Linked DNA regions of Homo sapiens: region 2 is linked to region 1. Evidence: fine-mapped expression QTL. A gene starts in region 1. The other region holds a variant in brackets. All regions are shown on one strand. Distances are between the middles of the regions. Region 1 holds the start of ARMH1 (armadillo like helical domain containing 1). Region 2 holds the start of RNU5F-1 (RNA, U5F small nuclear 1).

Region 1 (10,795 bases):
ATAAATATACAAACAAAGCCATCTCCTAACTACTTTTTCCGTAAGCTTCTACCCTTCCTACTTGCTTCACCCCCAGATTTCTCCATTAGCTCACTGTGGCCTACTGGATAAAGTCTAAACCCAATATGGCACTCAAGGCCCTTCAAAACTTGGCCCCAGCTGGGCGCAGTGGCTTACGCCAATAATCCCAGCACTTTGGGAAGCTGAAGCGGTGGATCATGAGGTCAGGAGTTCGAGACTAGCCTGGCCAACATAGTGAAATCCCGTCTCTACTAAAAATACAAAAATTAGCTGGGTGTGGTGGCACGCGCCTGTAGTCCCAGCTACTCGGGAGGCTGAGGCGGGAGAATCACTTGAACCTGGGAGGCTGAGGCTGCAGTGAGCCAAGACCGTGCCACTGAACTCCAGCCTGGGTGACAGAGTGTCTCAAAACAACAAACAAACAAACAAACAAACAAACAAACTTGGCCCCAATCTAACTTCATCTCTAGTCACTTCCACATTACAACAACCTTGCACTCTCAACTCCCCAGGCCCTTCCAGGGCCCTCTGCATCTCAGTGTTGCTCTGCCATCAGGAATGGCCAGGTTCCTTTTTGCCCTTTGGCAAACTCCCTGGGACAACTAGGGGTTTGCAGCTCTGGTCCCATCCATGCCACCTCTTCCTCTAATATGCTTTAAAACTTACCCATCCTTCCCACTAGAGTGTGAGTTCCTCAAGGGCAGGGGTTGGTCTTCCCTGTCTCTGTGTCCCTAGGACCTGGCATAATGCCTGGCACAAAACAGATGTTGAATAAATGCTCGCTGAGTGAATGTGTGAAGAAATCACCCAGCTCCTGTTGAGATGATTATATCTGAATGTCCATGATATGCAGGTCCATAAAACTACCAACTTCCCAAAGCTGCCATGTGCGGAGTGGCAGAATCTCCATCCAAGAAGGCCAGTGCAAAGTCTACGAGGTGTTTTACAGCTATGACAGGAAACAGCAATGTCAGCAGCGGTGTCATCTTTGGACACTAAGGACAGGGATTCAGTGCCATGAACGGTCAGTTAAATTGTAATTGGAGTGAACTGTTCTTCTGTAAACCATAATGTTATTTAGCTGCAGCCAAATGGCATTCAAGAAGGGGAGAAATTTTTTTTGAAATGTCACAGAAATTATTTCCAATTTGGTGCTCACAACCAGAGACTCTAATGATCAGTGGAAATGAGAAGCAAACAAATTAGCACTAATGGAAAATGGCTTTTGGAAAAGAAGATTTAATTTATAGTCAACTGATCATGGCATGCAGCATGCAGTAAAAGTCAGCTTCACCAGCTTGATCATAAGAACTGGAGCACACATGGAATGCCAGAGAAAAATATATGTATGCCATCATGCTTATTGGGATCTCTCTGTAAGTGGCAGCCAATTAAAATAGTCATTATTTTACCTCAGAGAGAAAACGGTGCAAAAAATCAAGCACGCGAAATTAAAAATCCAGATTAAGAACCTCGGTCCAAATTGGTTTGTTTGTGGCCTTCTAACCTTGGCAAAGTCTTCTGCAAGGATAACAGACCTACTTTGTCTTCAGCCCAGAGTGGACTCTTTGTTTTTAATTTCCTCTCCATCTTCAGAGGTGATTAATAAATCTGGACTCATCCATAAATCATTTCTATAGTGGCCAAATGGTTCTTCTTCATGCAGGGAAACTAAAATCACACAATCTCAAAAGCCTCAGCTCTCATGCTAAGCCAAAGGTCCTTGGCAACAAGCGAAGGGGAGGTATTAAAAATCAAGAGGTCAATAGGTCTTGTTTCTAAATAAAATTTCCCAGAGGGCTTCCCCACCCCCCCGGCAAATCAAAAGACACCTTCTGAAAGCAAAGAGGCCTCCAAGGCATGGGTTGCCAGCCTGGCTCACTGTCCCCACATGGCCTCGGAGACAACAAGCAAGTCACTGCCTCCTATTCCTGTAGGTTTCACATGTAGAATGAGACAGGCCTTCTCCTTGGGCTCCCGTCCCTGACTCCTAACTCTCAGTTCTCCATTCAGAGATAGGGAGAGAGAAACATTATCTCCTCAAACTTCCAAACAAGGTGTCCTTATTTCTCTCCCAGGGGCATATGCACTCCAATTTGTCACTTCCTTCTCATGGACCCTCTTCTGCTCCCCAGTCATACCCTGGCAGATACCCCTACCCCTGCTACTCATCACTTCCTGGTAGACTCCATCTGCCCCCACCTTTTCCTCACATCTGTCCATTTTCTCCATCCTCTCCCCACAAGAACTCCTTTCCCCCATCTCCTTCCTATGAAATCCTCTGCCTTCATCTTCTCCCCACTTGCCCTCATTCCTACCCACAGCCCCCACTCTTCTTCTCCCCAGACTCACTTCTGCCTCCAACACTGCTCCACAGACCTGCCCTCATCCTCTCTCCACAACATGTAACTGGCGAGGTCAACCACACTCTCCTTGCCCCTTCACTGCTCTATGCTTCATCTTCCTCGACCCATTTCCCAGCCTTCCTTCCCTTCCCAACCTTTTTACTCTGCTCTTGAAAACCCTTCTTCCCAATCAGCTAAGTCTCCTCCATCCTCAGCCTCTCCAGTCACCTGCCCACCTCCAGCCTGCATCCAAAGCTGGCTCTACCCCAGGGCTCCCCTTCTGCATGGCCCTCCTGGTAGAATCTGTTTAGATTCTTACACCCCCAGGATTTCAGGTTTAGGAGGGGGCCTCATGTCTCCTTGCCAAAGCCCAACTCAGTTCCTTATTCCACCTCCTTCTTGTAAAAGCCCTTACTACTTCAAGGGTCATACCATTTAGCTGTCTCAGCCTTTGCCCCTCCTCATGCTGTCACCTAGAGACTCCAGAAAAACCTGCTCTGCCCATCAGAGACTGGTACCTAGCTCACGGGCATCCTCTTCCCTTCCCTCCCCTCAAGTCTTTCTATCATCCAGGGGGAGTTCAGTGGCCACATCAGCATCCTGACTGTCTCCTGTACTCCACTTTGGTCACTGACTCCCACGGCCACACAGTGGACCTTGTCATCACCGGAAACTACTCAAACTTCATTCTTCCACTTTCTGATCACAACTCCCTCATTCAATGATCTCAGATGTGGATTCTCTGACTTCACTGGGACCTCTAGTCCATACATTTTTTTTCACTCTCCTATCCAGTTTAGATACTAAGGCCCTTCATTTCAATCACTGTTTTGCCACAATCTTCAACTTCCTTGTCCTTTGTCCTTCCATTGTATCCGCCTGGTAAAACCCAAACCTAGATCAATTAAACTAACCTCTGTGTACCCACCACTAGGTGGCTGAATGTTGTTGAGGGAAAAATGCATATTACACAACCTTGCAGACTGCTGCTTCCGAAAATTAATGGTCACTAACCTCGACAGGGCCATGATAACTGCCCAGAAATCTGTTTGCTACCTTAGTCATCTCACTGCCACTCTCCAGTGCTGCTATTTTAATCTTTCTCTGCTCTTTTCAATCTCGCACACCATCTCCAATCCCACTCTCACTGGCTGATATAATGTTCTTATTTGACAGAGAAAATGGAAACCATCGAAGAATTCCCTCAGCTTCCTGTCACCAAACCCACCAATTAACCTCAACGTAATGCTTCCCTTCTGCCACAAAACAAATGTTCCTCCACCCTTCTAAGTGAATTTCTTCACCAACACTTTGGTGAAGTCTTTTTTTCAAGGGCACCATTCTCAGTTATCTTCTTTCCCTTATAGTTTTATCTTTTTCCCCTTTGCTGGATCCACATCAACATTTCTTCCATCCGAATAAAAACCTGTGTTTCCTGCTGGATATTGCCTTCTTTTTTCTTCTCCTAAATAGCCAAGCTTTCTGAAAATGTATCTTACATGAATCTTCACTTCCTCAATCCCATCTGCTTCTCAAACCACTGTAATTTGACCTCTGCTCCCATCACTCCACTGAAACTGCACTTGTAAAGGTCACCAACAACTTCCTTGTTTCTAAATCCAGTGGATTCTTTCAGGCCTTATTTTACTTGATTAGTCATAAGCCTTCAACACTTTCCTTCCTTGGCTTCTGAAACACCACATACTACTACTGATCTTCTTACCATTTTGGACACTTCATCTTGATTACCTTTGCAGGTTCGTCCTCCTTTGCCAGACCCTCAAACTTGGGTGTTTCTCAGGGCTCTGTCCTAGGTCTCTTCTGACTCTACACTTACTCCCTGGGCAAGCTCAACAAATCTATTGGTGTGGCTGGCATCTATAAGGCCCCATAGACTCCCACACTGCAACTTCCAGTTAGACTTATCTGGCGAACTCCAGTTAGGCATATCCAATGGCCTTCTGGATACCTCCACTTGGATGTTCCATTGGCACCCCAAGCTCACCGTGCCCAGAACTGACCCTCTCCTAAAAACCCCTGCTTCCTCTCCTTCCTGTTTGCCCAAACCAGGAATCTAGAAGTCATCCTTCATTTCCCTTACTTCCCCCACACCCAATTAGTAACCAAGTCCATTTTTTTCTAGCTATAAGTGTCTAAGGAATTCATCCTGCCCTTTCCATTTCAGCTGCCACTCCATGCTTTGTGCCACCATAATCCTTCCCCACTACTGAAACAACCTCCTAACTGGTCTCCCTCCTTCTCCCAATCCTCAATCCAGTTCCTGCACTAATGTTTCTTTTTTTTTGAGACAGAGTCGCGCTCTGTCACCCAGGCTGGAGTGCAGTGGAGCAATCTCGGCTCACTGCCACCTCTACCTCCCAGGTTCAAGCCATTCTCCTGCCTCAGCCTCCCAAGTAGCTGGGATTACAGGTGTGCACCACCATGCCCGGCTAATTTTTGTATTTTTAGTAGAGATGGGGTTTCGCCATGTTGGCCAGGCTGGTCTCGAACTCCTGACCTGAAGTGATACGCCCGCCTCAGCCTCCCAAAGTGCTGGGATTACAGGGGTGAGACACCACACTGGGCTCTTTGTTTTGTTTTTTGAGACAGGGTCTCACTCTGTCACCCAGGCTGGAGTGCAGTGGCACAATCATGGCTTACTGCAGCTTTGACCTCCTGACTCAAGTGATCCTCCCACCTCAGCTTTCCAAGTAGCTGGGACTTCAGGCATGCGCTACCATGCCTGGCTAATTTTTAAAATTTTAATTTTGTAGAGATGAAGGTCTCACTATGTTGCCCAGGCTGGTCTTGAACTCCTTCAAGCCATTCTCCCGTCTTGGCCTTCCAAAGTGCTGGGATTACGAGTTTGAGCCACCGCGCCTGGCATGCAAAGAGTCTTTCCCCCTCCCTATCTCTAAAAGTCTTTCAAGGCCCAGCTCAAGAGCCAACCCCACTGCCATAAATGCCCCTTCTCTGATTCTGAGCTCCTCAAATCCTTACTCTTCTGTAGTATTTATCTCACACGCAGAATCAGAGTTGCTTCATGCATGGTTTCTCTCCCTCTCCCGTTAAGACATGGGAGAGGGAGGGCCAAAAGCTTGATTCTCACTAGGGCCTAAGGAACCTTATTTAGCCCACCCAGTCTCTGGCACATAGTATGTAAATATGCTGGCACATAGTATGTAAATATAGATAAATGCAAGAAAGTTGCACTCCCAGCTCCTCGGTGGGCCCTATCAACAGGGCATTCTCTAAAGTCATCAACTGAAGACTGCTTCCCATCCACCCATCCATCCATCCATCCATCCATCCATCCAGAATATGCCTCAACCCCACTGGGTGGAGGTTGGGTCGGCACGCGCCCCCTAGGCCGTTTTGTACGGTTTTATACCTCCAGCCCTCGCAGTTGCGGCTGGTAGAGGATGGCAGAGGTAGGTAGACGATGCAAGTCAAAGGGCACACTCTTCCGCCGCGTAGGATAGGACTCTGTTCGGACGAGTGACCCTGCCCATTCCCAGAATACAGCAACTCTTCAGCCGCCTCTCACCTACATGAGAGGGTGGGGACTCTTCCTGACCGGCGCCCCGGCTGACCAATACCTGATCCAGATCAAGCGAATTAGCCAATGGCTGCGGGTCAGTAATAGGGGCGGGGCATGGTTGCTAGGGCCGAGCTAGTGGGGTGAGGCGAGAGGCTCTGGAAGAGACTCGGTGGTTGCTAAGGCGGGAGGTCACAGAGCGCGGCGCAGGGATTGGGCCGTGTTGGGGGAGGTGTGTGGTGATTGGGCGGCGCCCAGGAGGCGCCCGGGTGAGGCACGGGTGCGCAAGCGGGAGTTCCGGCTGGAGACCCGTGCTCTGGGCCGGCGCCTTCACCATGGCCTCGGCAGAGCTGGACTACACCATCGAGATCCCGGATCAGCCCTGCTGGAGCCAGAGTATGGAATGAGGGTTGGGTCCAGGCGCGGGGAGGTGACCTCATGAACCTGTGGGTTGCGAGCGCAGCTGTAGCCCCGCCCCTCATGCGGCCCCGCCCTCCCTCGGGCCGCCCCCTCATAGGGTCTGGCAGGTCCTAGACTTAGAGAGGCTCAGAGAGCCCCGCCCCTCGTAAGTCCCGCCCCAGAGTGTTCCTCCCTGGCGAGCCCCGCCTCTGCCCGAGTCAGCTGCTCGCTTGGGACCTCTTTTTCTGTCTTTCCTGTCCGGGGTGCTCAGGTCCATGCCCTTTAATCACTTCTCATAGCTGAAGGCTGCCGAAAGCTGGATCCCTCCTGATTCCTTTGTTTGGGATTGGGCTTCCCACATCTAGCCTATCACTTATTATTTTCCCGAAGGCGTGGAGGGGGAGGCTCGCGGGGTCACCGATCCTCGCAGAAGCCCGGGACTCAGAACCCTTAGCCGTCCCTCTCCACTCTTCTCGGCAGTGGTTAACAGTGCAGTCTCTGCCGTCGGGTAGAACTCGACTGAAATCCTGACTCCTTCCTTTAGGAGCTGGATTACCTTTGGTAAGCTACCTTCTCTGAACTTCAGTTTCCTCCTCTGCAAAACCGGGATAAGGATAGTAACCTTCCTCATAGGGCTGTTGGGGCCATCTGGAGATTGTGTAAAGGGCCTGGCATGGAGTGAGTTCAGTAATTGGCATTTACGATCAGCATTGTTTCTCTCCTTACATTAAAGAAAGACATGTAGGATTCTCCACAAAATTAGGATTGACAGCAGGCCCGCATCCATGACAGTGTGAGTAGATCGGGGTCCAGAGAGTGGAAAGTTTGGTCTCTCTGGGAATTCTGGCAGAAGGGCCTTGAAGTATGATCAGCCTGAGGCCAGCGTGTCCCTCACTTGCATTAGTCCAGCATCGCCTTCACGCCTCCTGTCTCACTGCCTGCAGCCCAGCCTCTTAAACTGCTACCACAGTGATCTTTCTAATGCAAAGGTTTGATCTTATACTCTGCTCTCCATAAAACTTACCTCCTTAAGGAGAGCCTTCCCAGATCCCTCCCGTAGCATCTCATGTTCTTTGGTTGGAGTCTAGGAGAGGGCAGCCCTTAGACTCCCGCAGAACAGATGGCCCCAGACCAGCTGTTTTTCCCTAGAACTGGATCTGCTGGCTTAGCGCTTTTGGGTTTATAGATGTAAAAATACTTTGGACACGTTTTGGCGTCAGCAAGCCATGAAGTCAGTTAATATTATTTCCTTTGGAGAGTCTTCGGCTGCAAAGGGTTGGAGCTGCCTTCTGCACGGCCAGGAGGGCAGCCTCGTGGTCCTGGTTCACATTTCAGCTCCATGTCTTACAAGTTATATGTCTTTGGCAAGCTATTGAACCTCCCTGAGCCTGAGATTCCTCCACTGTGAAATGGGAAGAGTACTAGTGCCTACCTCCTCGTGGGATTGCGAGGGTTACGAGGTAGCGTTTGGATGTGTGTCCCTGGCACAGTGCAGGTGCTGCCATTGCATTGCTCCCCTGTGGTTCCCCCTCAGCCCCCCTTTCTTTTTTTTTTTTTAAGAGATGGAGTCTCCCCTGTCGCCCAGGCCGGAGTGCAGTGGCGGATCCCATGGCTCCCTTTGCTGCTCCAGGAGGCTGGGTCTTAGAATTGGAAGAAATCTCAGAGACTGTTTTGTCCTGCCTCCCTCTGTTGGCATGAGTGCATTCCATTGCTAGCAGACCCTTCCCTGGGGCGATGCTTCTGCCCAAACATTCTAGCCTGTTGGAGGCAGCTGGGATTGTTAGAAAGCACTTCCCTTTCTTGAGCCACAATAGGCCTTCCTGTAATTTCCGCTCTCAGTTCAGTATTTGCTGTGTCCTGGCTGTGGGATCGTTGTTGGCCACTCAGAAGTGACTCACACGCCCAAGGAGCTGAGGTTTTGGGGAGGGGAGTGAATTTATAAGCAGGTGGTTTCAAAATGGTGTGCTAACTGCAGGGCTAGAGCATTGTGGTGGGAACGATACAGAGCAAGGAATCTCTCTTCCTCTGTTCAAGAGGACAGCTTCGTGCCTTCACATTTCCTCCAAGGGAAACACCTCCACGGCTTTCAGTTGTTTCTCCTCCTTATTGCTGCTCCTGACTGGCTTTAATTCATTGCCCTTCCCTCTCACAGTCCATGCTCCAGAGGAGAGCTAGAGGTTGTCAAACCCCTCAGAAGGAGATCACGACGCTGTGGTCCCCTGAATCCATTTGCTTCCTATCTGCAGAGCTTCCCTCCAGGCCAACATGGCCTGATAGAGTGACAGTCTTTTGGAGCCCCAGAGATTGTCTGTCTTTTGCAATTACTGTTTAATGGTGGAGAAGTGTATAGGACATTCATATTTAGTTTCTGAAATTACTTTTTAAAAACTTTTTTTTTTGAGGTGGAGTCTAACTCTGTCGCCCAGGCTGGAGTGCAGTGGCACGATCTCAGTTCACTGCAACCTCCGCCTCCTGGCTTCAAGCAATTCTCCTGTTTCAGCCTCCCAAGTAGCTGGGACTACAGGCACCCGCCACCATGCCTGGCTAATTTTTGTAGTTTTAGTAGAGACAAGGTTTCACCATATTGGTTAGGCTGGTCTTGAACTCCTGACCTCAGGTGATCCACCCGCCTCAGCCTCCCAAAGTGCTGGGATTACAGGCGTGAGCCACTGTGCCCAGCCTTTAAAAACACTTTTTTTTTTCAGTTTAAAAAATTTTCATTTTCTTATATGGAGACAGAGTCTTACTGTATTGCCCAGACTGGTTTGAAACTTCTGGGCTCAAGCAGTCCTCCTATCGCAGCCTCCCAAAGTGCTGCGATTACAGGTATGAGCCACTGCACCTGGCCTGAAATTACTTTTCCCCTGTATTTGAAAAATCGAAACCACAGAGCCCATCACTGCTGTGAGCTGACAGAGAAGCTGATGCTGGCACATTAGCTAGCTGGAAGGCAGCTGCAGATCTGGGGTCATTCAGAGCCCTGGGCCTTGTAGGTCAGGCTTGGCAGCCCAACATCCTTCTGCTGGGAATCCTACCAGCCAGTACCTATTGGCTGCCCACACCGATGGTCGTCTGCCCAGGCCTTTGCTAAAGCCGGTCGTTTGACCCAGAATCTGTCTTCCCTCCTCCCTCTCTTTTTCCCAGGCCAGTGATCCCCTCAGTCTCTCAATACCCTCTCTTACTTCATTTCATTTGGGAAGGGTCTCTCCTGGGGCTCCCATAAGCACTATATTTTCCTGTTGTCGTGTTTTTGATGGCTTCACTCACTGTCACCAGGGCCTGGGAGGGATGATGTACCAAGTGAGCTGAATGGAATCACTTGGCAGCACTGTAGGCCCAAGCCAGAGCTGCTCTGACATCCCAGGCCCAGGCCGTGCCACCCCTCCTCCCATCCAGAGAATGGTCAGCCAAGTCCCACCTAGATCCCCTCTGTGACTTGCTCATAGGCCAGCAACCTTCTTAAAGGCACCGTGTGGCTCTCATGTTCAGTAAACATAAAGAAAAATTCATTCATAGAATTAATGAGTCTGGGGCCTGGTCATGGGACAAACATTTTGCTCTTAAAGTAAACAGAAGGTCTTAAGGGGATCACAGAGAGGGGAAGTGAGGGGGTTTTTGCTCCCCAGGTTTTACCGCATGCCTTTTTTGCTCATCACTGGCTGAGGTCAAAGAAATATAGACATCATTTTAACCCTCAGGAAGTTGTCTCGGACACCCAGGAGACAGTGCTGAAGGGTCTGGACCACCATGGTGGGCCCTGTGGTGGGAGAGGCTTCCTAGAGTAGAGCAGCCCAAGCTGGACCTGAAGCTTCAGGAGGGCTGACAGACCCCCATGGTGAGCAGCAGAAAGTGTGGAAGTCAAGTCCATGGCCATACCACCTTGAACATGCAGATCTCAGAAGCTAAGCAGTGTCAGGCCTGCTTGGAACTTGGATGGGAGAAAGTGCAGAAGTAAATCCCTGAAGGGGGACAGTGAGTGGCTGGAGGGAACAGGGGCCTGGCAGGAGGCCGCGCTGTGCTTTTGTGGGTGGAGAATTAGATGAAAACCTGAAGATCTGTCATGATGGACAGACCTCAAAGACCCAGGTGAAGAGAGTCGTTTGGGATTTGATCCTTGTCTTGTCTACGAGGACCCCAAAGGTCTTTTTTTTTTTTTTTAATACAGAGGAGTTGTATTTATTTTTGGAATCATGATCTCTTTTCTTTCACCTCTAGATAAGAGCCCTTTCTGGCTGGGCGTGGTGGGTCACACCTGTAACCCCAGCACTTTGGGAGGCCGAGGTTGGCGGATCACCTGAGGTCAGGAGTTCGAGACTAGCCTGACCAATATGGAGAAACCCCATCTCTACTAAAAATACAAAATTAGCCGGGTGTGGTGGCGCATGCCTATAATCTCAGCTACTCAGGAGGCTGAGGCAGGAGAATCGCTTGAACCTGGGAGGCGGAGGTTGCAGTGAGCCGAGATTGTGCCATTGCACTCCAGCCTAGGTAA
Region 2 (10,795 bases), 46 kb before region 1:
ATCCAGGACCAGCAGTCGGTCTTTCAGCCTTCAGGCTGTTTTTGGTTTGAAGGTGGGGTTCACTGGGGACCCACCCCTATCTGCCTAGGCATTTGGCTGCCTCCTGTTGCTATCTCCTAGATCAATGAATAAAGCTTCTGCTCTGCTTTATGGAACCTGGCCTTGTTCTATTGGTGCAAATGGTTCCAGGCAAGGAAAGGACCCATTAGGATCAAACGACCCCCTTTAATGTCTGTAACAACCGGAGAAAAACCAGGTAGGTAGGGTGTTCTGGAGGAAAGGGTGCATAGGCCATCAGGGAGTGGAGGTGAGGCCCTCTATTCAGGCTATGCCCTTGAACCTTCTAGGGTGTTGGTGGCCCTTCCCTCTGGATCTGCTTTTTTTTTTTTTTTTTTTTTTTGAGAATGAGTCTCACTCTGTCGCCCAGGAGGCTGGAGTGCAGTAGTGTGATCTTGGCTCACTGCAGCCTCTACCTCCCGGGTTGAAGTGATTCTCCTGCCTCAGCCTCCCAAGTAGCTGGGATTACAAGTGTGTGCCACCACACCCGGCTAATTTTTTATTTTTTATTTATTTTTTAGTAGAGACGGAGTTTGACCCTGTTGGCCAGGCTGGTCTCGAACTCCTGACCTCAGGCGATCCGCCCACCTCAGCCTCCCAAACTGCCAGGATTACAGGCGTGAGCCACCGTGCCCGGCCTGTTTTTGTGATGGGGTCTTGCTTTGTTGTCCATGATGGCTTCCAACTCTTGGGCTCAAGAGATCTTCTTCCTTCAGCCTGCAGAGTAGCTAGGATTACAGGTGCAAGCCACCGTCCTAAACTTGGACCTGCTTTTTAACTTGAGGAGCACAGGCACCACAATCTAGCATCATAGCTCTCACTTGACCTCCCTTCCCCCTCCACACACACAAAGAACAGACAGGTATCAAGGCTGTTTATTGACTCTTCGCAGCCAGCGGCTCTTCCTCTGCCCCTCTGGGATGCCTAATCCCCGTCTCCCCCCTGGAGCCAAGTGGAGTGGCTCTGAGCTTGACCCCAGGCGCCTTCCTCTTGCCAGGCTTCCCTGCCCCGCAGCCTTGGCCTTCCTGGTTTGCCACAGGGGCTGTTACTCCTTTGATTCTACATCCTCCTCGAAGTGTGTGAGGTAGGCCATCTGAGCCGAATCGCGCGAGCCATAGAGAGTGTTCATGCTGTAGGAGCTGCCATGGAGGCACAGGGCTGCAGGCAGGAAAGGCGGGCGTGAGGCTGTGCTGGCGGCGCCTGCGCCCGGCTTCCCTCGTCCCACACTCACCTTTGGTAACATTGACTGTGTTGGCCGCCAAGATGTCCGCCTGAATGCTGTCTATTTTCATGTACAAGTCCTCAGCGTTGCTCTGAGGACAGGAGCAAGGGGGACCCGGCTGGGGTGCCAGGGCAGTCTGGACTTGGAGTTGGGCTTGGCAGAGGGATGTTGCAGGTGGGGGGCGGGTCGGCAGCCTGACCGAAAGGGCAGGAAAGGGAACAGGAAGGTGGCGGGTGGAGGAGCCTACGCCAGAGCAGTCCCTCCTGCAGCTGGTGGCCAGGTCCACTCTGCATGTGGCGCGCTCCAGGATGGGGACTGTCTGAAGGGGCATCACACTGTCCGAGCCGCCATCTGCTCATTGCGGCGGGGCAGGAAGGGCGCACTTACCAGGAAGAGCTGGTAGAGTTCCTCCCCCATGCACTTGCGCACGTGCTCCGCCACCAAGGGGAACATCTGCACGAAGCACTGCGCCGCGCGGGCGAGGCGGCGTGACTGCGGGGGCGACGGGGCTGCGGGTGCCGCCGCCCTTCCCGCCCCCTAACCAGCCGCCGCGCGCACCTCCAGCGTGAGGCTGGCCAGCCGCTGGCTGTTGCTGTGGTCCGTGTTGCCCATGGCGGCCATTAGGCCACGCACCACGCGCAGGTACAGCAGCTCCTCGGCGATGCTCATGTCGTTGCGCGCCAGGACCCTGGGCCGGGGGTTCGGGCTGGGGCGACGCCCTGGGGCTCACCCGGCGCACACCCCCGCCCACCCGGCGCACGGAGCGCTCCCGGGGCCCGCCGGCAGCGCCAAGCCAGGCTTGCTGCAGCTACCCACTAACCCCTGCCCGCTTACCCGATGGCCTTGGCGGCCGCGGCCTGCTGCAAAAACATCGGCAGGCTGGGGGTGAGCTGGAGAACCGAGGGGTCTGAGGAGGGGGCAGCCGTGAGGCAAGAGACCGCCCTCCCGTGGCCCAGGCAGCCCCATTTGAGCAGGTCCTTACCACTGAGGATCTTGGCCTGCAGTTTGGAGATCTCCTTGACCGACGGTATCAGCAGCGCCACGAGGCCCTTGAGCAGCGCCTGGCGCACATCGTAACCGACCAGGTCTTTGATCAACTCGATGGCTGCGGAAGGGCAGAGGTGCTGGAGAGAGGCCCCAGGCCCCTCCGCCACCGAGGAAGCAAAGAACCCCGTGAACCAAGTCGCCACTCGTCAGTGTCCTCCTCTTTTACTGATCAGCACTGTGCAGGGCGTGGGGGAGCTGGGAAGGCGAACCTCAGTTGAAGAGCAGGAGGAGGGGGCTGAAGGGGGAGGAGGAAGGGTTGGATGGTGAGCCCACCTGTCGAGGCGGCCTAGGATGTCAGCGCTGGAGGCTGAGACCCCAGAGAGGGGGGCCTTCGCCTTGGAGGAATCCAGGTTTCATGGAGGAGGGAAGGGCTGGGTCTTTACGGGAAGACAAGATGGAGAAAGACAAGGGGTGAGAGGGAGACAGAGAAAGTGGGTGGGAGACTTGTGGCAGGAAATGAGAAAGGGGAAGGAAGGTAGGCGGCAGTTTAGAGAAACTCTCCTTCTAACCATCATCGAGCCCTCTCCACCAGGCAGGGTGCCAGGCTTTCCATACAGCACCCGTGGAAGCTCACCAGAACCAGATGAGGTTCACTTCCCCATTTTACCTTTGCCGAAATTAGACACAGAGAGGTAAACCACTTTGCCTAAGTTACACAGCTAGGAAGTGATGGAAGCAGAAGGAGGGGAGGATTTGGTTAGGAAGGAGAAGGGGACTAGAATTTATGGAGGGCATTTCCTGCAGGGCTTTCCTGTAGATATTTTACAGGCAGTCATTCATTCAGTCCAGCATTCACTCAGTCTTTCGGCACGGCTGCATGTGAACGCCTATGGTGCCAGGCGCGGCATTGGGTGTTGAGGATACAGACTGAATTCATTCATTCGACCAACCCTCCTTAAGCGTGCACAAACAGGCAGCGATGATATGGTGACAGGTGCTGTGGAAGGAGTCAGTGATTGGGCTGTGGGAGCACAAGAGAAAATCGGCAAGGATTGAATGTTTTTGTAAAGAAGAGAAAGGAACCACAGAGCTAGAGGGGGCAGGAGGAGAAGGAGATGCTAAGATGATGGCACACCAGCATAAATGCTACCTTTTTTTTTTTTTTGAGACAGAGCCTCACTCTGTCGCCCAGGCTGGAGTGCAGTGGCGCGATCTCGGCTCACTGCAACCTCCGCCTCCTGGGTTCAAGCAATTCTCCTGCCTCAGCCTCCCGAGTAGGCTGGGATTACAGGCGCCCGCCACCACACCCGGCTAATTTTTTTTTTTTTTTTTTTTTGTATTTTTAGTAGAGATGGGGTTTCACCATCTTGGCCAGGCTGGTCTTGAACTTCTGACCTCGTGATCCACGCGCCTCGGCCTCCCAAAGTGCTGGGATAGCAGGCATGAGCCACTGGGCCCGGTGGGCCCAGCCAGTAAATGCTAGTATTTTTGTTTGTTTGTTTTTTTGAGACGGAGTTTCACTGTCATCACTCAGGCTGGAGTGCAATCGCTCACTGCAACCTCTGCCTCCCGGGTTCAAGCGATACTCCTGCCTCAGCCTCCTGGGAAGCTGGGATTACAGGCGTCTGCCACCACGCCCGGCTGATTTTTGTATTTAGTAGAGACAGGGTTTCACCATGTTGGCAAGGCTGGTCTTGAACTCCTGACCTCAGGCCTCCCAAAGTGCTCAGGCCTCCCAAAGTGCTCCCAAAGTGACCGAGAACTCCTGCCTCGGCCTCCCAAAGTGCTGGGATTACAGGCATGAGCCACCACGCCTGGACTTTTTTTTAAATTTAAATTTTATTTTTTTTCTGAGACAAGGTCTTACTCTGTCGTCCAGGCTGGTCTTGAACTCCTGGGCTCAAGCGATCCTCCTACCTCTGCCTCCTTAAGTGCAGGGATTACAGGTGTGAGTCACTGTGCACCGGGCACTGCTACTCTGAACACATGTGGCTACATGGAAGACAGGACTTGGCCATGTGCTCTCCCCAGCTCAGTAGTCAAGTGCCTCTCTCCATTTACTGGTAAGAGAGAGAGGGTTTAGAGGAACTCTTGTTCCGGCGCTCAGCTCATTTGCATCCCAGAATGCATTGTAGATACGAGAATTATTACCAGGGTTATCTGTTTGAATAATAATATTTAAACTTTTTTTCTTTGTCAGGAGATTTTACCCAGTGAGAACATGTTTAGGACACTTTTCTACAGTGGAAGAAAAGCTTCTGTCTGCAGGTCCAAAGGCACCGTAAGTAGAGGGAGACCAGTCAATAGCTGGGAAGCCAGGCAAAAGGCTAACA[G/A]GCAGATCTCTGGTTTCTCTTCATAACGAATAAATCTTTCGCCTTTTACTAAAGATTTCCGTGGAGAAAAACAACTATGAGTTTATGGTTAAATTTTTTGAAGTCTTGCCTAGGCAAGGCTGAATGTTCTGTTACTAAAGAGAGACGTGTGGGTGGGGTGTTTCATGCTTTGGGAGGTTGGGGTAGCTCCACAAATGTCACCCAGGTTGTAGCGGAGTGGTGTGGTCGCGGCTCACTACAACCTCCATCTCCCATGCTCAAGCAATCCTCCCACCTCAGCCTCATAAGCCTGTCTAATTTTGTGTACTTTTTGTAGTGCCCGGCCTACTGTCATGTTTTTTTAGCTTCTTGTAAACATTTAGGAAGCTAAATGTTTATAAGATTTTTTTTTTTAAAAGAAAACCTAGTTTTTGACAGTCTGTATCTAATAATTTGGCTGAAGTCTTGTGAGTCTTTCTAGTGTGCTAGTTCCAATTTATAGTGATGACTTTGTGTGCATGATTATCTTATACTTTGGACTGGTCTCATATTTGAAAAATTAAGTGTAGGAAAAACTTAAGAGTTAGGATGATGATACTTTCTTCCAGAGATAGTTTTCTTTTGTTTTTATCAGGTACCTGGGGACACAAACAATTCTGGACTACCTTTGTCCACATTCAACACTTGAGGTTCTCTGGACCACCTGGTAGTTATATAATCCATACAAGACCACCTGAGGGCCGGCTTACTTTTGGCCCACCTTGACCTTGAGGGTACTGTCTTCTGGGGTCCAACTTAAAGTATGTATGCTAGAGGTATCAGACTTCCCACCGAGAGCAGAATCTCAGTGCCTTCTCTTTCTTTTGCCCTTTTTTTGTTTTGTTTTGTTTTGAGATGGAGTTTCACTCTGTCACCCAGGCTGGAGTACAGTGGTACGATCTCGGCTCACTGCAGCTTCCACCTCCTGGGTTCAAGGGATTCTCCTGCCTCAGCCTCCCGAGTAGCTGGGATTACAGGTGCGCACCACCACGCCTGGCTAATTTTTGTATTTTTTAGTAGAGACAGGGTTTCACTATGTTGGCCAGGCTGGTCTTGAACTCCTGACCTCAAGTGATCCACCTGCCTTGGCCTCCGAAAGTGCTGGGATTACAGGTGTGAGCCACCACGCCCGGCCTGAGAAGTCTTCTTTATCTGGCTATTGCTACTCATTCTTCTAGGCTCAGCTGAGAAATCAACTTTCAGGAAGCTGCCCCTGGCCTGCTCTCCTCTGCCTTCACTCTTCACTCAGGAGTAGATGTCCTATGTCTCTGAACCCGTAGCACCGTATAGAATTCTTGCTATAGAATTCTAGTACTATCCACTAAATGGTCTCCTCACTAGTGTGTGAACTCCAATGAACATATCTGACACATCTCACTTCTGTTTACCTAGAGCCTGAAACCATTCCATGTACACAATGCATGCTCCATACATCTTGTTGAAAAGACCTCATTGGATTCTGCATTCCAACAGGCGAGGCTTGGGTCATGGCAGCCTAGGACCACGCTTAGAAACCACCAGCCTGGTGGTGGATGACCCCAGAGGAGGCTCTGCAGTGGCCACTGTGGTCCTCATTCACACAGCTACAGAACTTTCCTAGCTTGAATCTTGGACAGGCTGGAGAGCCAGAACTGTGGCAGCTGTCTCCCCGTATACCCCATGGCCAACTTTTTTTTTTTTTTTTTTTTTTTGAGACAGAGTTTTGCTCTTGTTGCCCAGGCTGGAGTGCAATGGCACGATCTTGGCTCACTGCAACCTCTGCCTCATGGATTCAAGCAATTCTCCTGCCTCAGCCTCCCAAGTAGCTAGGATTATAGGCGCCCGCCACCACACCTGCCTAATTTTTTTGTATTTTTAGTAGAGACGGGGTTTCACCATGTTGGCCAGGCTGGTCTCTAACTCCTGTCCTCAGGTGATCCACCCACCTTGGCCTCCCAAAGTGTTGGGATTACAGGCGTGAGCCACTGCACCTGGCCCCATGGCCAACTTTGAGAGTGCTTTGAAGCCAGGACCTTATACTTCTTGGCCACCCCAGAACTGGGCACCACTCTATGGATGCTCATATCATACAACCCAGGCACAACAGAAAGGGGAAGAGTGTGGTCCTTCTCACAGTGGGAGACACAGGGCACCTGGTGAGATGGTCAGAGATGTGGACTGCGTGGATTTACAGAGCACACAGAACAGGTCTCTGCTTCAGCTCCTGCAAACTTTACTTGTTTAACTCCAAACAGACATATGCTGCCTAAAAAGGAACACATGCTGGCGATTTCTAACTTTGTCAGAAAACTATCATTGATGATTTCCAAAAGAGCAGTGGTCTGGGAAGGCAGAGGGAGCAGCCACATCCTGTGTGCTGCAGGCTGCATGCTCAGCTCTCCTGGGTGCTGAAAACACCGGCGGAGGGATGGGGAGCTGACTTCTCCACTCCAGGGCTCAGAGTGCCCTTCGGCAGGAAGAAGAGAATGAGTTTTGGCTGGTGTGTCAATCTAAGGAAAGGCATGGAAAGGCTACTAGTAGAGAACCAGCCTGCCTCCTCGAAATTGCCCTTGTGCCAGATCCTGCTCTCCTCTGCCTCTTGCCCATCATCCTCAGGCTCCAGAGCCTTGAGGCACACTAGAGGGGGCCTGGTCCTGAAGCCCTATAAAAGCTAGTTTTGTCTCATCCTGGTTTTCCCAATCACAGAATTAAAAAATCACCTGGAGGTGGAAGATCTTCAAAGACATCCTGTGCTACCCCTTCCAGTACTTATTCACCCTTTGGGGGACAGACCTTGTGGGGCAGACCCTTTCCTCTGAGGACCTTCCTGATTTAGAAATAGTGGCTTCATTCAGAAATGCCTTTTTTTTTTTTTTTTTTTTTTCCGAGACAGTTTCACTCTTGTTGCCCAGGCTGGAGTACTATGGTGCGATCTTAGCTCACTGCAACCTCTGACTCATAGGTTCAAGTGATTCTCCTATCTCAGCCTCCCAAGTAGCTGGGATTACAGGCATGCACCACACTGGCCAGCTAATTTTTTGTATTTTCAGTAGAGACGGGTTTCTCCATGGTGGTCAGGCTGGTCTTGAACTCCCGACTTCAGGTGATCCGCCTGCCTCGGCCTCCCAAAGTGCTGGGATTACAAGCATGGGCCACCATGCCCGGCCCAGAAACGCTTCTTATGACCAACCAGCCACTGCTGCTGGGCTGCCTCTTTCTTCTAAGTCTTCTAAGGTAGCCCTCGCAATCCCATCTGCCCACCCTCTGCAGCCTCTGGTTGCCCAGATGTGGTCCTATTTTGGAATCAAAGGCCCAGCAACATTGTGGAGGGAAAGGGACCAGCCCCGGGAAGGGGCAAAGCACTTGAGCTTCCCTGGCTTCCCCCAAACACTCTCTGATCTGGACAAAATGGCAGACCGGACATCTCTGGCTGCTTGGCAGCCGTAGCCTGCACCGGCTGCTGCCTGAAACCCCAAAGTATTTCTCACTTGTTCTACCATTTGGTTTCTTCCCTCTTCTTGAATTGGTGCAGCTCATTTTTTTGGAGCCAAGTGGTCTGGCCCCTCATGCATCTGATGACACTTGGCTTTGTCGCCTGCAGCACGTCCCTCATTAGTAGCTGGGCTCTTCCCAGGCACAAGCTGGCAGTGCGTAATGCCAGGACATCCTGGGCAAATGTCTGCCTGTGCCCAAGAGCTCTTCCTGCAGCAAGACATGACTTGGTGGACACTCAGGGTAGAAACGAACAGGTGAAGATATTTTTATGAAAATTTCTTGACCACAAATAGCATTTTCTGCCCATGTAGAACCAAATACTCCAGGAGACAAATGTCTAGTTCTGACTATTCACTTTACCTAAATGCTTAATCTTTTGCTAATTATGTATTTGTAACACTTGGAGCTACTTAGAAAAATGAAGATTTATTCACTGAATCATTTCTGACTGAGTTTTAAAATTCACAGCTGTCACTGTTTATACCCAAAGTGAAAGTACTGGTCTCTGCCCAAATGTCTTCACAGGAACCACAGCCAGTTACAACTCTTTATATATCGTGCTAGTTACTAGGAAGGGCAATTCCTTCAGAAAGCAAAGGACAACAAAAGACTATCTTTGGCAGCTTTGCCTAAAGCCTGTGGTGCTGATAACACCCAAATGTCCTAAAGCTGAGCAATCACTGATTTATTCATTGATTCATTCATTTATTTAACAAAATTCTCATTGAGCATCTTGTCTGTGCCAGGCCTCTGGGCTAGGGCTATGAAGAGGACTAAGATCTAATCACTGGCCTTAGGGACATCACAGCTGAGTGGGGGATACCAATAGGGAAACTGGCATTTATGAGGCAGTGTTATCAGGGCCATGGGAACACAAAGGAAGCCAGGTTGGTTGATGGAGTGGAGATGATAGGGGATGGAGAATCAGGAGAAGGATTCCTTGGAGACGGTGATGCGTGAATTGGCAAAACCATAGGGAGAAGGGAGGGGCTGGAATGTAGAATGTGGCAAGTGCCATGTTGGATAGTGCCATGTCACATTTGTGGCCAGGCAAGGGAGATCTGGCTGGGAAACAGGGATGCTGGGTCATGCATCAGAGCTAAGCCTGTGGAGGCAGGCCAGCCCCAGCTTCTGCAGGGCTATGCATGTGCCAACAACCCGATACAGCAGGCATTTTTCTCATTTCATTTCAGAGAAAAGGAAGGCTCAAAAAAGTTGAGTAGCTCGCTCAGGATCAGATAGCTAATAAGAATAGTTCTGATTTCAGGCCGGGCGCGGTGGCTCACACCTGTAATCCCAGCACTTTGGGAGGTCAAGGCGGTTGGATCACGAGGTCAGGAGTTCACGACCAGCCTGGCCAAGATGGTGAAACCCCGTCTCTACTAAAACTACAAAAATTAGCTGGGCGCAGTGGCAGGTGCCTGTAATCTCAGCTACTTGGGAGGCTGAGGCAGGAGAATATCTTTTACCTGTGCAGCAGAGGTTGCAATGAGCCGAGATCGCGCCACTGCACTCCAGCCTAGGTTACAGAGTGAGACTCCGTCTCAAAAAAAAAAAAAAAAAGAAAAAAGAATAGTTCGGATTCCAAATCCCATATTCTTCACCACTAAGTCTACTGCCTCCACTCTGGTGGTGGACTAGGAAAATGAACTGTGTGTGGGCGCCATACTGGACAGATGAAGATTGGTGTAGAGGCCAGTGCAGGTGAGCAGTATGAAGACCTGAATTACAGCAGTGGAGACAGAATGGGGAAGAGGGAACGCATCTGCATATTGAAGAGTTAGAATTGACTGGTCTTGTTAGAAGTTGGTTGAAGGTGGGAAGCAAAAAGACAAGACAATTACCAATATTTCTAGCCTGGGCAGCTGGGTACTTTCCACTGAGATTGGGACCTTGGAGAAGAAAAGCTTTGGAACTGGAATATCAGAAGTCCACTGGTGACATCTGAGGGGAGGTGTTCAGAAGGCAAATGGACACACAGGTCTAGAGCTATAGAGAGGTCACTCCACTACTCTGTCCTCCATCCATAAAATGGGGAAAATAATAGTGCCCACCTCCTTGGCTTGCTGTGAGGGGTAAATGAGTAAAGATCAAGGGCAGTATCCAGCATAGAGTTAACACTCTATAAAGATTAGCGACTATTGTTTCTGTCATCAAGGTGGTAGGTGGTACATAAAGTCGTGGTAATTAAAGTTGTGGGAGCGGACGAGGTGCCATAGACAGCAAAGAAGGAGAAGAAGACCTGGAGTTGAATGCTGAAAAAAAAAAATTGACACCTAGGAGACTGGTAGAGGAATGGGAATGTATAAAAGACCGAGAAGCAGTTTCTAGAGCCATAGGAGGAAGCCAGGAGAGTATGGGTTTGGGAAGGAGGATGAGAGTATTCAAGGAGGAGGTATCATCAGGAGGGTTTGAATGTTTGAGAGTTCAGGCCCCATGAAGCTGAGAGGATGCTCTGTGGGGCCCATGCTCATGCATTTGACAAACAGGGATTGAGCACGTGCTAGGTGCAGTGCTGGTGCTGATGAAACAGCAGTAAATGAAACAGATGTGGCTGGGTGCAGTGGCTCACGCCTGTAATCCCAGCACTTTGGGAGGCTGAAGCGAGCAGATGATCACTTGAGGCCAGGAGTTGAAGACCAGCCTGGCCAACATTGTGAAACCCTGTCTTTACTAAAAATACAAAAATTAGCCAGGTGTGATG

The links.
Region 2: its variant is fine-mapped to the expression of ARMH1 in whole blood (TOPMed, PIP 0.97).

Annotation. Positions count from the first base shown.
Region 1 is chr1:44,669,836-44,680,630 of GRCh38, reverse strand. ARMH1 (armadillo like helical domain containing 1) reads right to left here and starts at 5,917. Exons shown (of 12, transcript NM_001145636.2): 1 at 5,758-5,917. TMEM53 (transmembrane protein 53) reads left to right here and starts at 6,150. Exons shown (of 3, transcript NM_024587.4): 1 at 6,150-6,300. The coding sequence starts at 6,240. SNORD145 (small nucleolar RNA, C/D box 145) reads left to right here and starts at 9,575; the gene lies at 9,575-9,674. RefSeq lists silencers at 5,978-6,027, 6,098-6,147, 6,298-6,437 and an enhancer at 6,205-6,706.
Region 2 is chr1:44,715,711-44,726,505 of GRCh38, reverse strand. ARMH1 (armadillo like helical domain containing 1) reads right to left here. Exons shown (of 12, transcript NM_001145636.2): 7 at 2,262-2,384; 8 at 2,114-2,186; 9 at 1,838-1,967; 10 at 1,667-1,744; 11 at 1,289-1,370; 12 at 915-1,215. The coding sequence ends at 1,103. It overlaps RNU5F-1 (RNA, U5F small nuclear 1), which reads left to right and starts at 4,604; the gene lies at 4,604-4,721. LOC105378690 (a long non-coding RNA gene) reads left to right here and starts at 2,387. Exons shown (of 5, transcript XR_007066059.1): 1 at 2,387-2,471; 2 at 4,467-4,547. RefSeq lists a silencer at 2,775-3,069. The variant G/A (reference allele first, on the strand shown) is at 4,600.